2 separate regions of the Homo sapiens genome follow, and region 1 is linked to region 2. Evidence: fine-mapped QTL for protein levels in blood plasma. A gene starts in region 2. The other region holds a variant in brackets. All regions are shown on one strand. Distances are between the middles of the regions.

Region 1 (5,373 bases), 510 kb after region 2:
TAGATAACCACCAAAATATCTAGACGAGAAAGGGATGCCTGCAGCCTCTGCTGAATAAAGGGAATCAATGAGGAGGGTGTCTTGGGTTTCTCCAGAGAAAAGGCCTCCAGAGACCATGACCAGAGGGGAGGTATTGTGGGAGGGCTCTCCTACACTAGCAGAAACAGGAGAACCTCAAGACTGGTGCCGCAGGGTGCACACCAAGCTCCCACTCCCAGCACAAAACTGCTTTCTCCATTTTCAATGGACAGAAAGGGAGTTTATGGAGGGTTTGGGGAGAGAGGAGAGATAGATGATTCTATATAGAGAAGGGATAGATGGTCCAGCAGGAGTGAAGATACAGGCCGGTGGGATCAGTACCAGAGAAGCTGCAAACAAGCCATGGATTCTGTCTGCAGCTCAGGAAGTGCTACCAAGGCAGCAATCAAGGTTAGATGTCTGCGGCTGCCCAGATCCACCCAGCAAATATTTCCTATCAAAAGATAGCCTGTAGGATTCTGTCACAGTTTCTACCACTAGTGAGCATCTACTCTGTGCCAGGCACTGACTAGCACGATGAGGCCTCAGAGGCACCATGAAGCTTAGAGTCTAATGCTGCAGCCTCATGTTGAAAATACTGTAGAAGCATGGAGGAGAGAGGGCATCTACCTAGACTGGAGAAATCCCGGAAGGACACATGGAGGAGGTGGCAAGAGGGATAGTGATAGGGAACCCCAAGTAGAAGAAACAACAGAAATACGGAGTGGTACAAAGCATTTTGTACCTAGGACACTACACAGCTGGCCATGTGTGTGGAGGGCTTCCTATGGCACTATGACTTTAGATACACCAGACAAAAAGCCACCTTTTGCTCCAGTGGTTTGTCCTTAAGATTGCACTTGAGGCTTTTAGAGCATGGGCTGCAGCAACTTCATGATCTCATCCTCTGGGAGGGGATGGGCTAATCCAGATACAGCTCCTAAAGACTTTGAGGAAAATAACATAGAAGTAGGGATATTCTCCTTTACAATTAGTCACTCTCATCCAAACATCCTCTTATTATAAGTACCCTAGGGATGAATCTCACATCCGTAATGTGCACCCTCTACTTGTGACACACTCAGAAAACTCCATAAAGGGCAGCTGGTGACCATGGGGGCTCAGAGCTAAACTCAGATTGCAAAGGTACCTGAAATGTATCAAAGTTGTGATGCAGGAGGGCGGATTGTCTCCTTCCTTGACAGGGAACAACATTGATCAGTCCCTACTGCATGCTATGTACACATTTTCACACTCAATCCTTACCTCAATACTATTAGGTCAGTGCTATGGTCCCCATTTCCTTGATGGGATGCCTGAGGCTTGGAGACCTTCAATAACCTGCTCAAGAACTTCCTGACCTTACAAAGCCAAGCCAAGATTGTTGCTGCATCTGCTTCACACATGCTTCCCTGAGGCTTCCCCCAATGCATTTGTCCTTGATATTCAGGCCTCAGCTCAGAGGTTAAGTCTCAAGCTAAAGGAGCCCCTCTCTATCACTGGCTTTTCCTTTCATAGCACTTACTCCTTTCTGTTAGAGCAGCACAGGCTTATTCATCACCTGCCTCTCTCCCTAGGCTCCTGACTTGTTCACTGCTGTACCCTTTGTACTCCAAGCAGAGCCTGGCACATAGAAACAAACCCTGAACAAATGGTTGCTCAGTGAACAAAGCCGTCTGGCTAGCCCCAAAGCCCAGTCTCTTCCAAGATACCGGTATCACCATGGTGGCTCCAGTGGCCCATTGGGAACTGAGTAGCCTTCTGGTAACTGCAGCCTGATACTGAGTCCCACAATGCAGGACTTTCTGAGTTTCTCATGGGTGAGGTCAGGCAACTTTATAGATTTTTATTTCTACTTCAGCAAAGGGATATCATCTAGCAATGTTCTATGTGACAAACATTTGGGATTAGTAAACTAATAGCACCCATAACTCACATTGCTTGATGAGTCAGAATCACTCTTCTGCACATAAGTCTGGCTGAGGATGGCTGCACAGCCGTCTCAGACATGTGTCCTCCCAGAGCGTGGGATGCCCGCTGTGGGAGGCAAACACATGTCGTCAGTCACTGGGAGCCTGCCTTGAGTCCGCTCTGACTTTTCAGGTGCTGCTGTTATTATATCAGTCAATTCCTGTGTACATTCACTTGTAGAGTTTGTATGTGTTGATTGCTGTGTTCTTGCATGGTGCCATTTTAATCGTGATTTTGTTCCTCTCTAATGCTTTATCATTTCCACATTATTTTTTCACTAAAACGCAGTGACAAGACCATGAGACCTACTTCAGTAACTCACAGTTCTGAGTGTCTGAGAATCCTTTCACCCTACCTTGTGACCTCATGAGATCCTTGAACAACCATGCTTCCTTTTGTTTTATAACAAGGCACATGCCTTCCTAAAAATGACCACGTGAGGCAAAGTTAAAAAATGGGGTGAGGGGCACAACACTCAAAAATGTCATCGGTGGCACATTAGAAAAAAAGGAGAAAGAGAAAACATTAGCACAATATTGCACAAGTACTACAATAAGTATGGCACCTTGCCTTGAGGAGATCTGACGTTTGCCTGTGAAATGAATGTAAGAAGGTTGCCTCCCCAGGTACTGAAATAATCTGTACAACAAGCCCCCATGACACAAATTTACCTATATAACAAACCTGCACATGTACACCTAAACCTAAAATAAAAGTTAAAACATAAATTTTGAGATACTAAAAAAAAGGTTTGGGGATGATGGGGGTTGCCTCTGGTGTGTTGTTGTGAAGTCCTTGAAGGAGTATCTGGGAAATGAATGAAAAGTTGTAACTGCAGGCGTGGACGGGTGTGGCTCATAACACATGGTGAACTAAGTGGCTGGTATATGTTTGAGGGTGTGACTGTGTGTGTGTGTGTGTGTGTGTGTGTGTGTGTGCTCATGTGAGTATGCACGTGCCTGCACATGTTTTGTGTATTCCTATGTGGCTCAGTGCAGCTGGGTGCAGTTTTCTGTGTTTGCCTAGTATTTCCCAGGGAGGAAACCCTGCATAAGCAAATGTAAAACTGCCATTATTCTCAAACTGTTCCCTAATATCTAATATATGTGTTGGGGCAAATAATTCGTTGGAACAAATTCACATTTCTAAAAGAAATGTTCCAGCAGAACTGACTGCACCTGATTCACTTTTCATCCTTTCCTTGTTTGTTTAGACTGGACCAAGAGGATTGAGTACCAGCCTGGCTCCGGGAGCATGCCCCTGTTCCCCAGCATCCACCTGGAGACGTGCGATGGAGCCGTGTCTTCCCTCCAGATCGTCACAGAGCTGCAGACTAATTACA[T/A]TGGGAAGGGTTGTGACCGGGAGACCTACTCTGAGAAATCCCTTCAAAAGTTATGTGGTAGGTTTTTCCCTTTTGGGATTTTAAAAATCAATTGCTTTTAAATGATGTATACCAAAAAAGCATATCTTATTGTCTTAGGCAAGAATCAACCCTCCCTTCCTGCACTGATATGTGTAACTCCTGGATGGATTTTAAGTTTACTTATGGCAGAAGGGTTGGAAGGCCCAGTTTTTGGCAGTAGACTCCTGACTCAGACTCCATTTATTAGTTATGTGGCCTTGGGCAAGTGACATGGAAAAGCAAAGCCTTTGCTCTTCTTTGGTAAAACGGGAATTAAATGGCACGATACTTTCAGGAGTACCTAGGTCAGGGCCCAAAGAAACACGAGTTCCTTTCTGCCCCACTGGTTTAGAAAAAGCAATCAGACCAGACCCAGTATGAAGAGTTAGTAGTGTCAGTCACCTGGAAAGGGATTGGTCTCCTCCCCAAAGCGCCAGCTATATAATTTGTGGGGCCCAGTGCAAATGAAAATTTGGGGCTCTTGTTCAAAAATTAACAAGAGTTTTACAACAGAGACAGCAAAGCATTAAACCAAGTAAACACAACTAAGCCTTGGGCCCTATATGACTACTCAGGTTGTTACTGACAAAGCTGGTCTTACCAAAGATGGAGTCTTTCCTTATTCAGTATCACAAAGCCAATACACAAAACCAAAAGTGAGTGTCAAGCAGTGCAGGCTTTATTCAATGGCCGTGGAATTGAGAAGCAGGAGATGGCTCACAATCAACTTCTCAACAAGTGAGGGTGAGGGGCTTAAGATACAGGATTTCTCTAATGAAGGAGGTGACATTAAAAGAAAAGGGAAGAATATTCATGTCTTTTCCAGAAGTGGGTGGTGAACCTCCTGGAATCAGTAGTACCGCCTCCCTTTTAGTCCTTTTACGGCTTCTTCCAGTCATTGTCATGGCAATTGTCAACTGTCGTGGTGCTGGAGGGAGTATCATTTAGCATGGAAATAAGATTATCATGAAGACTGAGGTCTTTTTGAAGTCCTTTGGTCAGCTGTCTTGGTTCTATGTACCAGTCTCAGCTGGTCTGGCTGCAAAGGGAACTTTTTATCACAGGCATTCTGTTTGTTAAAGATAAGCAAAGTTAGGACAGGGTAGAAATTCAGCTCTGTCACATAGTCACTGCCCCAGGTAACAAGGTCACATGCCCATGAAGCTGAGTCTGGCTGCCCACAGCAGAGAAGAGCTTGGGGTGAGGGTGACGGTAGACAAAGGAAGATACTCACTTGTGAGGGACAGAGAGGGCTTGTTGTCATTTGGCTGTGAGATGGCGCCACAAGAAAGGAGGCAGGCCAGGAGTTAGGAAACAAAGCTGATGGAGGGGTGCTCTGAAAGGTGGATATGGAGGAAAGCCAGCTTCACTGAGCACCTGCTCTGTGTGCCCTGCCAGCCTCTTCACATGCATTACTTTATTTAGTTATCCCATCTTCACCATGAGGAGGTCACCCATCCCATTTTAGAGGTGAAAAATTTGAGGCCCAGAGAGTGAAAATGACCTGTCTAAGGTCACACAGATAGAAAGCAACAGAGCCAGGATTTGAAAGTAAGTCTGTCTAAATGATGGGCATTTTAGCTCAGTATCCACTAAGGCTATCCATCCAGGCCTCCATCCAGGCCTCGGGAGCTAGAATGTAAATCTCTCAGTGAGTCTGTGAAATGAGAAAAAGAGCATCTCATAAGGCGAGAAGTGCCTCATGTGCTTAGTAAGTCAGACTGTTGACATGGTGATGGGCCTCCTTCACTCCTACTCCTGCACATAGTTGATTTCTTCCTTGTTCTCTCCCAAAATACTCAGGAACTCACACTGGACTCTCCAGCCATGTTTGGGAGCTTAGGAAAGGGCTTACTCTTACAGTGGGCTTGTATTTGGAGGTAACTGCATCTCCTCCAAAAGAAAAGGAGGCTGTGAATGCACAGTCTAGCCTGCCTTCCCCCAAGGTGGGCCTCTCCACTATTATCTTTGGGGCAGTTTTT
Region 2 (5,373 bases):
TTGCAAAGATTAAAGAAGGTGTAGGTGTGGAATGTATATCCTCCATTGTAAAGCCTGGCATGGAAAGAATGAGGACTCATTAACTGTTAGGTTGCTTTACCCCATCTTTTGCATCTGCAATGGCCCAGCAGAAGCAGACAGCACAGTAGTGCTCCATACAAATGATGTGGACTTAAAAGCTCTTATGTCTGAGTATTTCTAAGGCTGAACTTACTTACTTTTATCTCCTCTAAGGCAGGTCATTGTTGCCTGTTCCCCAAATGAATCAAATCAAATGTGTGACTGGCACACTTGTTTTCAGAGATATAGGAAGTAGGATAAGGGGAAGACATTTTTACATTTATTGAACATTGACTATGTGCAACATACTGTTTAACATATTTTTAAAATTTACTTCTTGTAATGATCTTATGAAGTAGGCATAATGCTGCTCAATCAATTGCTCCAGAACATAATGAATTAATGCAAAAACCACTTATTGTATCTCATAAGTCAGCTGGATAGTTCTGATGTGAGCCAGGCTTGGCTGATCTTGGTTGAGCTTACCTGGGCTTGCTCATGTGTCTGTGGTTAGCCAGCCTGTAGGCCAGTTGGTTCTGACCAGCCTAGTGTGACCTTGGCTGTCTGAAACAGCTCAGTTCTACTCCATGCAGTCTCCTACCCTTCTGCAGGTTAGCTTAGGCTTGTTCTCATGTCAGCAGCAGGGATTCAAGGCAGGAAGAAGCAACATGCATGCCACTGTCCCACTGACCAAAGCAAATCATATGGCCTAGCTCAGAGTTGGGGTGGGAGGGCACATCCAAAGGAAACAGATTCAGAGAAGCATGGACAAATGGCCATTAGTGCACTTGATCTACCACAATAGGCATTGTTATTACCCTCATTGGTAGAGGAGGAGATGGAGGCTAGCAATTTTGTGCCTGTTGGTAACTGGCCCACCCCCTAGTGTTTTTCTTTGCTGTGTTCTTTCCTGGCTATCTCTCCATGGAGATGCTTCCTAATAAGCTACATTTCCCCCTGTTTCTCATTATTTGGTCTGAATTTGAAACTTCACATAAAATTATTAGGACCAATCAGTGATCTTAACAAAGCCCAGTATAATGACATCAAAGAACAGTGCAGGTAAGTCAGTAAGATAGGTCTACTTATTAGAGAAAATGAAGGGAGGAGGGCAGATATGTAGTTGGGTGGAGCATAAATGGAAGAAAATGAGACAAATTTACATTTCTCTTCTATTTTCTGGCTTTTTTATTTTCCCTGGGTCAGCTACCACCTTTCCATGCCATCTTTTCTAGATTCTGAAACCAACATCTGACAAAGGCAAGGTCCTGGTGTCGGCCTGGGACATTTACTAGATTTTTGACCCTGAACAAGGAAGTTACCTAACTTCCCTGAGCCTCTATTTCATCATGTGTGAAATGAGAATAATAGCGCACATGTTGATTTGTGGGCTAAAGGAGACCTGAAGGTAAAGAGCCCCACATGGGTCTGAGCCCCATGCAGCCACCATGATTCACTGCTGTCCCCAAGCACATCCTGGTGCCTGAAATCCTGAAGAGTTGGCTTTCACCACTGCAGAGGCTCTGAGTGAGCTGCCAGGGCAGCAGAGGGAGGCTGAGCTGCAGGAGTGCTGTTAATGGATTTTATGGCTTTGTTGAGTACCTCAAACTACAGTTATTAATTAGAGGATGCTGTTTAGGCACTCTTGCAATATATACATTTTGTTAATTGATTTGTATAGGCTCATAGCTAGCAACATAAAGAATGTGCAGGACCATAACACTTACAAGGGATTGTAATTGCCTTTGCTGCCCTCTCTGGCTCCCCAAGCAGGGAACAAAAGCTTTGAGGATAGGACCCACTCTCTCCTCTGTCTTTGGATCTCCAACGACTAATCCAGTGCTCACTGTCAGGGTGATACAGCCTGTCTAGATGCTCAGCAAACGTCTTGAATCAATGACTAAATAAATAATATTGTTTGTTTCTGTATTTCCATATCTACTTTATTTCCAAACTATTCCTCATAAACCCTGCATTGTGTGTGATGTTGGCATTTCATTTAGGTAAATATGGTCAAGGATTTATTCTGAGTCCTTACTGTTTTTTTTTTTTTTTTTTTTGAGTACCTTTGTAATTTTTTCACGGCCTAGAGATGGTTGAGGATGCAAAGATATGCACTGGCTCCTGCACTCAGGGAACTGACAATACTCAACGGCACGAGATTTTACAATGCATGACGTCAAGTAGCCTGTTCTTAGAGATGCGGAGTGACAACATAAAGGTGGCAACTTCTTGCATGGCACCATACCGCAGGGAATTTTAAGTTTGACACCCCGCCCCCGCCACTGCAGCCTCAGCAGGCCCAGCACCCCAAGTTTTCTGATCTAGCTGTTCTATCAGCCTCTAAGAGCCGCGGCTGCCCCTGCTTCTCGGAGATGACGCGGAGCCCTGCCATTGCCATCCAGGTCCAAGGCTATCTACTCTGCCCGACAACCCCTAGCACCACTAGGCGCTGCTCTAGTGTGCGCCTGGCGCCCTCCCCAGACCAGTCGACGCAGAACGCCCAGAGACCCAGCCAAGGGCAAGACCCTTAGCGACGCCCGTCAGTCCTCTCCGCCCAGATATCAGTTCAAAGGGCATGGCAGGTCAGGGTCCCTCGCGCCACCCCAGATGACCCTCAGGCCTCGGGTGGCCACTTTCTGGGGGAGCCCTCCATCCCTTGCGGCAGCTTTTCCGAGAGTCGGAGTGGAGGCGCGGGGCTGGAGGGCTCTCCGGAGCCGCCCACCAGGGTCCTCTGGGGGCCCGGTCCCGACTGGGCAGGGGGACCTGGACAGGGCCCCGGAGCGTGGAGACGGCTGAGGAAAGTTGGGGGTCGGGGCCTTGGGGCGGGGAGCGCGGAACCCGGCGCCGATGCCCGCGTTCATGAATATGCACGAGCCACCTCCCTCCCTCCGTGACGTCACGGGCCGTCCCGGGGTGAGCGCCTGAGCCGCTCCGGGTCCGCGCCAGTGAGCGCGGCTGCTGCCGGCGAGCTAGCGGCGCAGCGGCGGGAACCCGAGGCCGAGCGCCGCGGCGGCAGCGCTAGAAGCGCACCCATCGGGCACGGCGAGGCGGCCCACGGTGCGGCAGGCACCGGGAGGCGAGAGCCGGCGCGGACAGTAGGCGGCGGCTGCAGCTCGTTGGCGGCTGCTGCGAGGATGCTGCCTGGGCGGCTGTGCTGGGTGCCGCTCCTGCTGGCGCTGGGCGTGGGGAGCGGCAGCGGCGGTGGCGGGGACAGCCGGCAGCGCCGCCTCCTCGCGGCTAAAGGTGGGTGCTGGGGAAGTTTGCTCTTCTCCCAGGAGGGAGGCAGGGCAGGCTTGAGGGTGAAAGCGGCAAGGACCTAGGCTCAAGCTGGATTTGCCCACCCTCCCTTGCCGCAGCTTCTTTGGCCTCTGTGCGCCCTGGATTCCCGAAGTCAGTTCCCTGCGCAGCGGACCAGAGAGGTCCACCCGCGGACGTCAACTCAACCCCTGGGCGGGGTCCGGGGGCTGAGCAGAAGGCGAGGTCTGGGGAGTACGGACAACTTTGAGGGCTGTCTGTGCCGGGGTGGGAGCGCAGTGGGTGAGTTTCGAGCTCTGGCCCAGGGACGGCTAGAGCAGGGCGCTGGCGCGCCGTGGGGACAAGCAGGTGTCTGCTCCTGCCTGGGGGAAGGATCAGCGGCGGTGCTTTCAAGGAGGGAGCCGAGCTGTGACTTGTCTCCCAGCTCGGGGATGGAGTGGAAACTTGTAGGCTCCAGGGAAGGCCCCGCTGACACTCCTCAAGCTCCCCCAGGGCGTCTCTGACTCCCCGGGGAACGTGTACCCTCCGGGTAGGCGGCGGGGTCCGGAAGAAGCGCGGGATGTGAGGCTCCCCGCTGCCTTTCCTACTCCGCTCTGACTACCGAGGACCGAGGAGCCTAACCTGGCACCACTCCCCTGCCCACCCTGTTCCTTTGAAGAGCTTGACCTCCCCGCGCCTCCCGCCCGGAAGGAAGCTAGATCCAAGCGAACGCCTGGCTCTGTCAGGCGAGCCTGGAAGCCGGCGAACCCCGGACTTTGACAGCTGCCTGGGAGCGTCGGGAGCTCTGGGGTGGGGGGCCGGGTCTGAAACAGGAGGTCACGTGCTTGCAGGGGGTGGGGAGGCGAGGGAAGAGCAGAGCTGGTGGGGAACAGTGGTGGGCTCAGGGGAGGCTGTGGCAGATCCTAGCTGGGGCGCACAGCTTAGTGATAACTTGTTGATTCTCTGCGCTGTTCATAAGTAGGGCTTGCGTTTGGTTTGTGGACTGTGGCCAAATCCGCCAGGTGACAATGAGGGGTACTTGGTCCCCAAATCCTGCCTGGCAATCATCAGAGGGCGGAGGGGTTTGCGCCTGTCAGAAAATAGATTCCCTGTTAGAGACAGCCTGATTCGGACGCTTGCTTTGAGCTACACTTGACCACTAGCTTAGGGGAGGAAATGCCTATCAGGCTGCATTACTCTTGGAGGTTGGGGAGAGCTGGAGGCAGGCAGTTCGCCTTGTCTGGGCTTTAGAAACTGGCCCTCCAATAACTTAGGAGTGATATATTTGAGAAGAACATGGGAGATTATGTTTATCTGTAATTTTTAAATTTTTTGGTGTCATCGTTTTGAAAATATTTTATAAGCAGGCATTCTGTTTCTTTTCAGCATTTTTTTTCTTGGTGTATCTTTGACAGGCAGTTTCTATTTTTAGAAATGAGAAATTTCATGAGAGAAAAACTCGTTATGAAAATATCTCAGAGTGCGGTAAAGAAGTGGCTGATATGAAGGGATCAAGCTGAGAGACTGTTGTTTTGGTGAAGACAAGAATAAAAAACAATGAACTTCCAAACATCTCCCCCCTGCTTTCCCAATATAGACACTTTGTTAAACAGGCAAATTACTTTTTTGGGGGGTGGGGGGGAGGAGATTTCCCATCACTTTGTAGCACAGTAATTGATATAAGCAGATGTCTGCAAACGGGAGTTTGAAGGAGGGTGAGAAGCACACAGCAAGTGCAGAACAGGGAAGAAATCATTTGGGAAGAGGATCTGGTGTGAGTAGTAATAATGCACGGCTGAGTTCTCAGGTCAGAATGGGAAGCTTCATAGAGGTAAGCGAGAAAGAGAAGGAGAGAGATAAAAAAGGAAAATAAAAACCCCAGGCTTTCAATGATTCACTTTATGTGGATAATTATGTGCATTTTAACCAACATCCGACTTAGAACATATTCATTTTTTGGTTAAAACTAGGCATTTGTCAGGTCGGGCATGGTGGCTCATGCCTGTAATCCCAGCACTTTGGGAGGCCGAGGCGGGCGGATCACCTGAGGTTAGGGGTTCGAGACCAGCCTGACCA

Which allele goes with the higher level. Alleles are on the strand shown, and positions count from the first base shown. The strength of an association depends on the size of the effect and on how common the allele is.
For the plasma level of the protein whose gene starts at base 3,008 in region 2, allele A in region 1 goes with a higher level than allele T (strong association).

Evidence for each region. PIP is the posterior inclusion probability: the model's chance that the variant is causal. Protein levels are from antibody-based Olink assays in UK Biobank. Linkage for the fine-mapping came from a reference panel and not from the study's own genotypes, which makes the PIPs less certain.
Region 1: its variant is fine-mapped to the plasma level of the CLSTN2 protein (UK Biobank, PIP above 0.99). The variant lies in the coding sequence of CLSTN2. If it changes the protein, the assay may bind it differently, which can mimic a change of level.

Annotation. Positions count from the first base shown.
Region 1 is chr3:140,445,317-140,450,689 of GRCh38, forward strand. It overlaps CLSTN2 (calsyntenin 2), which reads left to right. Exons shown (of 17, transcript NM_022131.3): 6 at 3,203-3,388. LOC124900599 (a long non-coding RNA gene) reads right to left here. Exons shown (of 3, transcript XR_924548.3): 2 at 4,626-4,727; 3 at 4,171-4,460. Among named protein-coding and RNA genes, the nearest start is that of CLSTN2-AS1, 61 kb to the right of the region's middle. The variant T/A (reference allele first, on the strand shown) is at 3,332.
Region 2 is chr3:139,932,178-139,937,550 of GRCh38, forward strand. It overlaps CLSTN2 (calsyntenin 2), which reads left to right and starts at 3,008. Exons shown (of 17, transcript NM_022131.3): 1 at 3,008-3,306. The coding sequence starts at 3,198. RefSeq lists silencers at 3,006-3,055, 3,096-3,155.